2 separate regions of the Homo sapiens genome follow, and region 1 is reported to be linked to region 2. The links are microRNA targets in miRTarBase. Many come from high-throughput screens and were not tested one by one. Region 2 holds a microRNA gene; the other region holds the end of a gene's coding sequence.

What was found. Region 2 holds the annotated microRNA hsa-miR-2113 (AUUUGUGCUUGGCUCUGUCAC, at 1,516-1,536, shown strand). A microRNA usually pairs through its seed, bases 2 to 8, with sites in the 3' UTR of a target mRNA and lowers its output. Matches are read on the target gene's strand: a 7mer-m8 pairs with bases 2 to 8, a 7mer-A1 pairs with bases 2 to 7 and ends in A, and an 8mer does both.
Region 1: the mRNA of ZNF860 is a reported target of hsa-miR-2113. The part of its 3' UTR that is shown has no 7-base or 8-base seed match.

What each region holds. Positions count from the first base shown.
Region 1 is chr3:31,990,777-31,994,776 of GRCh38, reverse strand. It overlaps ZNF860 (zinc finger protein 860), which reads right to left. Exons shown (of 2, transcript NM_001137674.3): 2 at 3,054-4,000. The coding sequence ends at 3,799. It also overlaps a transcript of OSBPL10 not described here. Among named protein-coding and RNA genes, the nearest start is that of ZNF860, 11 kb to the right of the region's middle.
Region 2 is chr6:98,023,071-98,027,772 of GRCh38, forward strand. It overlaps MIR2113 (microRNA 2113), which reads left to right and starts at 1,461; the gene lies at 1,461-1,551.

The DNA.
Region 1 (4,000 bases), not on the chromosome of region 2:
GCCTCAATCTTAAGACACATGAATATCTAGACTGTTTCTTCCTTTGGCAGTAACATATCTGGTGTTTGCAGTACACTTTCAATTTATAAAGAATTTTCTGATTTGGTGTCTCATTTAATCAAATGCTCACATTACTGTCACTTGAAGAAGGTGTATAGAAAAGACATCTGCACACCTACCCAAAAGATCTTAGAAATATCACTGAAAATTTTCAGCAGGCATGCAGTTAGGCTGGCAGACCATCCATCCATCCATCCATCCATCCATCCATCCATCCATCCATCCTTTTTTTCCCTGACATAGGGAACTCATCCTCTAACATGAAGGCATACAGGACATTTGACCTCATATACCTTTTTCTTTTTTAAAAATTTGTTTGAGAAGTTCACATTTAATAAATTTCACTATTTTTGGTGGACAGTCTATGAGTTTCTATGAGGCCTGGAGCTCTTGTAACCACTGCCACAAGTAAGTTATAGGACAGTTCCATCACTCCACCCACGTTCAAATACATTTCTGTCTAGCTACCTCTTTCTAGTCAAACACTTGCTCCACTCTTAACTCTTGGCAATCACTACTCTCAACTCTGTTCCTATAGTTTTGCCTTTTCCAGAATGTCATTATCAAGAAAATCATATAGTGTGTGGTTGAGTCTGGCTTCTTTCACTGAACATAATGCATATGAGATTCACTTGCAATATTGCATGTAACAATAGTTTACTCTCATTTATTGCTGAGTACTCATTTATTGTATACATGTACCATAGTTGGTTTACATTTTTAATTCATTCCCCAGTTGAGGGATCTTTGGGTTGTTTCCGGGTTTTGATGATTATGAATAAGGCATCAATAAACATTCACAAACAAGTTTTTTTTTGTACAAACATAGGTTTTCATTATATTTGTATAAATATCTAGAAGTGGAATAACTAGATCATATTGTATGTTTAACTTTAAAAGACACTGTCAAACTGTTTTCCAAAGTGACTGTATTATTTTGCACTCTCACCAGCAATGTGTAAGAGTTCCAATTACTCCACATCCTCACCAGCACTTGGTATCCTCAGTTTTGTGTGTGTGTGTGTGTGTGTGTGTATGTGTGTGTAGTCATGTTAATAGGTATGTAGTAGTATCTCATTGTAGTTTTACTTGTATTTCCCTAATGACTAGTAATGTTGAACATCTCTTGATGTGCTTTTTCGGACATCTGTATATCTTATTTGGTGAAGTGAATGCTCACATTTTTTGTGATTAAAAAAGGGTTTTCTTGTCTGGGCGCGGTGGCTCATGCCTGTAATCCCAGCACTTTGGGAGGCCGAGGCGGGTGGATCACCTGAGGTCAGGAGTTTGAAACCAGCCTGACCAACATGGAGAAACCCTGTCTCTACTAAAAATACAAAATTAGCCGGGCATGGTGGCGCATGCCTGTAATCCCAGCTACCGGGAGGCTGAGGCAGGAGAAGTGCTTGAACCTGGGAGGTGGAAGTTGTGGTGAGCTGAGATCGTGCCATTGCACTCCAGCCTGGTCAACAAGAGTGAACTCTGTCTCAAAAATAAAATAAAATAAAATAAAATAAAATAAAATAAAATAAAATAAAATAAAATAAAATAAGGTTTTCTTACTTCTGCATTTTGAGGGTTCTTTGAATATGCGGGAAACAAGTCCTTGGTCAAACACATGATTTGCAAATATTTTCCCGTCTTTGGCTCACCTTTCATTTCCTTACCCATATCTTTTGTAGAGTAAATATTTTCAGTATTTGTTTATTTTTTAGAGACAGGGTCTTGCTCTATTGCCTGGGCTGGAGTGCAGTGGCATGATCACAGCTCACTGCAGCTTTGAACTTCTGTGTTCAAGTGATACTCCTGCCTCAGCCTCTTGAGTAACTAGGACTACAGGCATGTGCCATCCACACCCAGCTAATATTTTATTTAAAAAACTTTCTGGACAGATGTTACCTTGCTATGTAGCCCAAGCTGGTCTTGAAATCCCAGCCTCAAGTGATGTTCCTGCCTTGGCCTCCCAAAGTGCTGGGATTACAGGCATGAGTCACCATGCCTGGCCAAGGTTTGTTTGTTTTTTGCATATAGATGTCTAGTTCCATCACTTGTTGAAAAGATCATCCAGGTGTGCTCAATGTAATCACAAGGGTCCTTATGAAAAATGCAGGAGGGTCAGAGTCAGAGAAGGAGATGCAATGACAGAACCAGAGATTGGAGTGATGTCCTTGCTGAAAGGGGCCAAAAACCAGGAACCAAGGAATGTGGGCAGCCTCTAGATGCTGGAAAAGGCAAGTAATAGATTCTCCCCTAGAGCCTCCAGAATCAACATGGCTCTACTGATACCTTGATTTTACCATGTAAGACCCATTTTTGGGCTTCTGACTGCCAGAACGGTAAAATAATCAAGTTGTATTGTTTTATAATAACCACTATGTTTATGGTAATATTTTATAGTAGCAATAGGAAACCAATACAAAAAGCTGCATTGAATTGCCTTTGCATTTCTGTCAAAATCAAGTGACTATATTCATATGAAACTATTTCTAGATTATTTATTCTGTTCCATATTTCTATGTGTCCATACTTTTTGCCTACACCACACTGACATATCTTTTTTTTTTTTTTTTTGAGATGGAGTCTCGCTCTGTTGCCTAGGTTGGAGTGCAGTGGGGCGATCCTGGCTCACTGCGACCTCTGCCTCCCAGGTTCAAGTGATTCTCCTGCCTCAGCCTCCCCAGTAGCTGGGACTACTGGTGCGTGCCACTACGCCTGGCTAATTTTTGTATTTTTTGTAGAGGTGGGGTTTTGCCATGTTGACCAGGCTGGTCTCAAACTCCTAACCTCAAGTGATCCACCCAAAGTGCTGGGATTACAGGCATGAGCCACTGCACCTGGCATTTTTTTTTTTTTAGCCTGTCTTGAATTCTCTTATTTTCACTGCTTCATATCTTCAGGATATGAAAAGTTGGTCAGTGGTAGTGAGAAAGATCCCAAAACATAAGGATCAAAAAATGGCATGTTTCAGGGTAGGCATCTGTATTAGTTATCCATTTTTTTTTTCAGAAAGAAAGAAGTAAAATTGTATTTGTTTGTAGATGACATGATCTGCTGTGTAGAAAATCACAGAGTCAACTAAAATACTACTGAAGCTAATAAACACAGTGTATTTGCAGAATACAATATCAGTACCAAAAATTAGTTAAATTTCCATACATTAACAATAAACAATGTTAAAAGAAAATTAAGAAAACACTTCCATTTGCTAGAGAACTTACAGTAAGAAATATTTAGGAATAAACGTAAAAAGGTGAGAAGTTTGTACCTTGAAATCTACAAACATTGATCAAAATGATTAAAAACTTATATAAATAGAGATATGACCCATATTGATGGATTGGAAAGATTAATATTGTTAAATGATTATATAACCCAATGTGATTTAGATTCAACACAATACCCATAAAAATCCCTATCAGAAACAAAAAACAGGCTAGGAAAAGTGGCTCACGTCTTTTGGCCAGGATGGTCTCAAACTCCTGACCTCAAGTGATCTATCCGTCTTGACCTCCCACAGTGCTGGGATTACAGGTATAAGCCACCCTGCCCAGCCCAATCCTCTTAACGTAAACACTTTAATGTCAATTAATGCTTGAACTCAATGTCAAGTCAACTGAAACTCAAGTCAATGCTGAATTGACTCTAATGTCAATTAATGCTTGATGGTTTGCTATACTCATTGCATTTGGAACAATTATCTCAGGAATGAATTTTCTGATGTTTTGCAAGGAGTGACCTCTAACTGAAGACCTTGCCACGCTTATGACATTTGTAAGATTTCTGTCCGGTATGGATTCTCTGATGTCTAATGCGATGTGAATGTGAAGTAAAGGCTTTGCCACAATCATCACACTTGTGATGTTTCTCTCCCATATGAATTCTCCTTTGTTTTGCATAAGATGAAGCTTGACTGAAGGCCTCGTCAAAATCATCACATTTG
Region 2 (4,702 bases):
TTTCCCATATTCCTTCTGCATCTCCTTTTTTCCTCTGCTTTACAAATTATATTTTTTTGTGCATGTCTGGATAAATGGTTTATGTGTATAGAATGTAATTCCTAAGAAAAAGTCTATTCTTCTATTTTAAAGTTAAGTAGTCAAACATATCATGTGTGATACTCCATTAAGTAAGTTTCACTCAAATGTTCCTAATACATGTGCTAAGTTCATTTATTTTTAACTAAAAGTTATGATGAGAAGACTCTTTTGAGTGTTGCTGCCACAAATATGTAAATTCAATGTCAGTTGCATGATGGATTTTTTAAAGTGAAGCTCTGCCTCACTTTAGTAAAGGGAAAACGAAATAAAAACAAAAAGGTACAGGTACCATTATTTGTTATAATTCTCCTTCTTTGTAATCTTATCACAGTGATTCTCACGGAGTGGGAGGAGTATCACACCCTAAAGAAAACCTTGGAAACTTGCAGGGATGTATTAGGTTTTTATAAAAATTGCATGGTGTGGAGCCAGGGCCACCACTGACTCCTGGGTGGAGTCAAGGGATGATAGACATTTGCAGCTTGCTTGCGGGAGGCTCTCATTGAAAAACTCTCCTATGCTCACAGAACTTTTGAGTATCCTATCAGACATTCATGTGGTTGAAAAACCTATGTAATATTATCCACACTTTGATTTTATTTTCATTTACATGGAATTAGAAGATTTTTTACATTGTTTAATATGTAATGAACTTTTCAGAAATCAAACTCTCTCATAAATTAATTGGAAATTGTTATTTCGAAGTTTACCAATTGTTGTTCATTGATGGCAACTCTATGGTGTTTGCTGCATCAATACAACAATCTTACTTTAGTTTGCATTAGTGGCTGATGCCTTTGCAAATTTATCATGATTCTGTGCACATGTATCAGCACTTGACTTCATGTCTTCATTATGTGGCAGTGCTAGAATATTTACATTTCAAAATATATACTATTTTATTAATATTACAAAGTTGTTTCTTTTTATTTCTTTTATTTTATAGTTGGGGCATTGTATTGACTTTTTCTATGATATTCTTGAAGTGGTTATAATATCTATGAATTTCATTTTGTTATAGTAAACGGGTTACAAAGTATTTGTTATAAAAAGGAGGAACTGGATCAGATAAAGTTGAGAACAATTGCCTCACGGCATCAAGACATGAATGCATTAGTTGAAAATTCTTCAGTGATAAATCCAGAGATTATTTTAATAGAACAATTATTTCCAATGAGGAAAATAGTATCTCAGGGATTTTTAAATATGCAGTGATAAGCCCTTAGTGCCTACTTTCTTATGTGTATGGATGAAGAGTGTTCAAAACAATTTGTCATATGCACAGAAATACAAAAGATGAAACCTAAAGAGATTATACATTAGTCTCTTAAGAGTAAAACTGACGGAGAGAAGCAGTATACCTTTCACAGAGGCAGATATTTTCAAAGCAATGTGTGACAGGTACAGGGACAAATCCCGTTAATAAGTAAGAGGATTTGTGCTTGGCTCTGTCACATGCCACTTTGAAAACCTACCCTCAAACTGTCTATAAATTTTCATGCCCATCTTTTTCTCCTTACTCTTTCCAGAGCATCTGATTGTTTTTGTTCACCAGTGTTTTTTTTCTCCTGCTTTATCTCATGGCATCCTTTAATAATTTTTAAGAGTTTTGTATATGTACTATGATTTTGTGGCTATGTTATTGTTAACAAAATATTTGCTGCATCCATTCATTTTCACTGGCCATCAACTGCTTCATTATAGGAGATTTGTTTACCTCTTATGACTTCCGAATATGTAAAAAAAAAATCACAGAAATTGAGGAGAGAAGTAACATTTATTATGTTGGTTAGTTTTTCCTTTTAATATGTAGTTAGGTTTTTTTAAGGAAAAAGAATATACACTATCTGGAAAGAAAAAGAGGTTTTTCTTTTTAGTTGTGAATTTTTGAAAACCCAATTATTAAGCCTAGAGGTCTTTAACTTTTATAAAATGGACTCAAAACAAATTTCAATCCTAAAGACTGATGGGCCACCTCTGTTTCTTATTTTGGTGCCTCATCACATGTGAGTTTGCTGATATTAGAAGAGGGACACAAGTATTTGGTAGAACATCTTCTGGTCTCTAAGTTGGTCCTGGTTTGATGCAGCACTCTTTTTCACCCTGCCAAAGATGATTTGCTCCCTGGAAGTAAATATTTATTAACTTGCTGTCAAAGTGAATATGGAAATTTTGCTAGTAGGAATTATATTCTTACTTTAAATTTCTATATTATTTTAAGAGGATGCATTAATGAAAAAACATAGTCCATGAAATGTGTTCTAATGTAGGCAGTTCCAAATAAAAATCATTTCTCTATGGAATTTCTGTTTTTCTCTCTCAAGAACACTAATGGTGCCTACAACCTATTGAATAGGAAGTGTTTTCCAGAGGACTAGCAATATACATCTGACATCATTTTCTTTGCGCATCTAAGTATAGACCTAGGCTGTCCTTCCACAGAATCCAACAGCTGGATAAAAAGTAAAAAACAAAGCAGATCTGCCAGATGGTTTATCTACATTAAATCTAACATCTGTATATTTTTTAAACATTTAGATGATTGGCTTATATTACATCTGCATACTTTTTGGCATTTCTTTGATCATAAATGTGTGTGTGTGTGTGTGTGTGTGTGTGTGTGTGTGTGTGTGTATGTTAAAGAGAAAAGATGCTACTGAGTCAGATAAAACTAACCAGAAAACAGAGCAATGGCCTTTGAATTTCTGTATATTTCTCTGAATGTCCATATCCAAACTCAAGGACCAGATAGCTCAAGTTCAAATTACAGAAATTTTTTGAAAGTTAGAGACAAACTGTGAGAGACAGGATAGTTTCTTATGGTATTCAGCTCCGTAATGTCATTGAATACATAGACTTGACTCTCTGGAAGGAATTCAGAGACCACCTGGCTAGAATCAATTAATTTAGACTTTAGTCATTTTACCTGTGTTAGCAAAGAAAAAAGTCAAAATAATAAATAATATGTTTTTGAAATTCAAGTGTTTTTTTTTGTTTGTTTTTTTGTTTTTGGTTTTTTTTTCCCTTAGAGATGGGTTTAAACAGATGTATGTAGAGTTGAGCCCTCAACATAAAATGTCACTTATCTCTTTGGAACCAAAATCTGAGAATGCCACACAAGCAAGTGCATACTGTAGTGATTGTTCATTTAATGAGTAACAAAAATTTACATTTGTAAGGGCTTTTGAAATTTTAAAGCTCCTTCGTAGTCATGGTCTCATTATCCCCACTTGATACTAAAAACCTTTCTGGAACCCAGATCTTCTCATTCTTTTTTTTGATTTGGGTTTTGGCTTTTGGAATTTTTTGTTTTGTTTTGTTTTTTGGAGACAGTCTTGCTGTTTCGCCCAGGCTGGAGTGCCATGGTGCGATCATGGCTCACTGCGGCCTCAACCTCATGAGCTCAATCAGTCCTTCCACCTCAGACTCTCAAGAGGCTGGGACAACAGGTGTGTGCCACCACACCTGGCTAATTTTTGTATTTTTTGTAGAGGTGGGCTTTCACCCTGTTGCCAGTCTCAAACTCCTGGGCTCAAGCAATCCACCGACTTTGGCCTCCCAAAGTGCTGGGATCATAGGTGTGAGCCACCACGCCCAACCCTCATTCTTTATTTGATGCAATTCCATTATTCCATGAGCAGAGAAGAAAATGAGAAAGAAAGGGACATTTGTAGAGCAAATCCAGTGTTATATGTGTTATATCAGGGGATTTGACATCTATCACTTTATTTAATTCTTACCACTACTTCTGGAATAGAAAATATAGAAACCAAATTTGCTTTACCTCTGACAAATTGGGTTTGAATTCTGCCTCTGCCATACATAGTGGCTAGCTGTGCATCTTTAGTTAAGTGATTTGAATAATTTCCGAGCTTCAGTTTCCTTACATATAAAATGGAAATAATATCAACCCCATATGCTTGTCATAAAATTATATGAGATTATATGCTTAGTATAAGTTAATTTAGCAATACAAAGCACACTGTTGGTGCTCAACACTCAACAAATGTTTGACATTTTACAGATGAAGAAATAGAGGCTTGAAGAGTTAATGGTGGTCATAGAAGTAGGATGTCCCTGAAGGAGCGATGAAAGCTATTCCTATCTTCAAGCCTCATACAACACTTTCTTTATCATTCTAATATTGCTTATTTTTAGAAACAATAATTCACACAATTCGTTTGATTTTATAAAATTAACTTGATACATTGCCCTTTGTGAGTTATATACTAATTTCTCATATCATAATTTTTCTTCCTTAAAACATTGAATTGGTGAGAATACAACAATGGAAATATTGGTGGTATCTTGTAGTTCCAATGAAAATCTGAAAGTACAAAATTAGACCAAACCATATATTTCCATTGCTTTTACTATGTTTCATTAGCAACAATACCAGTTTTGGAAGGTGGTGTGGTCTGGTTGTCACTCTGTTGCTGACTGTCTGTGTGACTGTGGACTATATGATTTAACTGTACTAATATTTACTGTGAATCTACTTTGTGCAGTAGGATCCTGGGATAAACCTAACACAGACCCTATCCTTAAGGAGTTTCCTGTCTCACTGAGAATAACAGACAAGTCATTAAATACACAACATAGTCTGATAAGCTGACATACA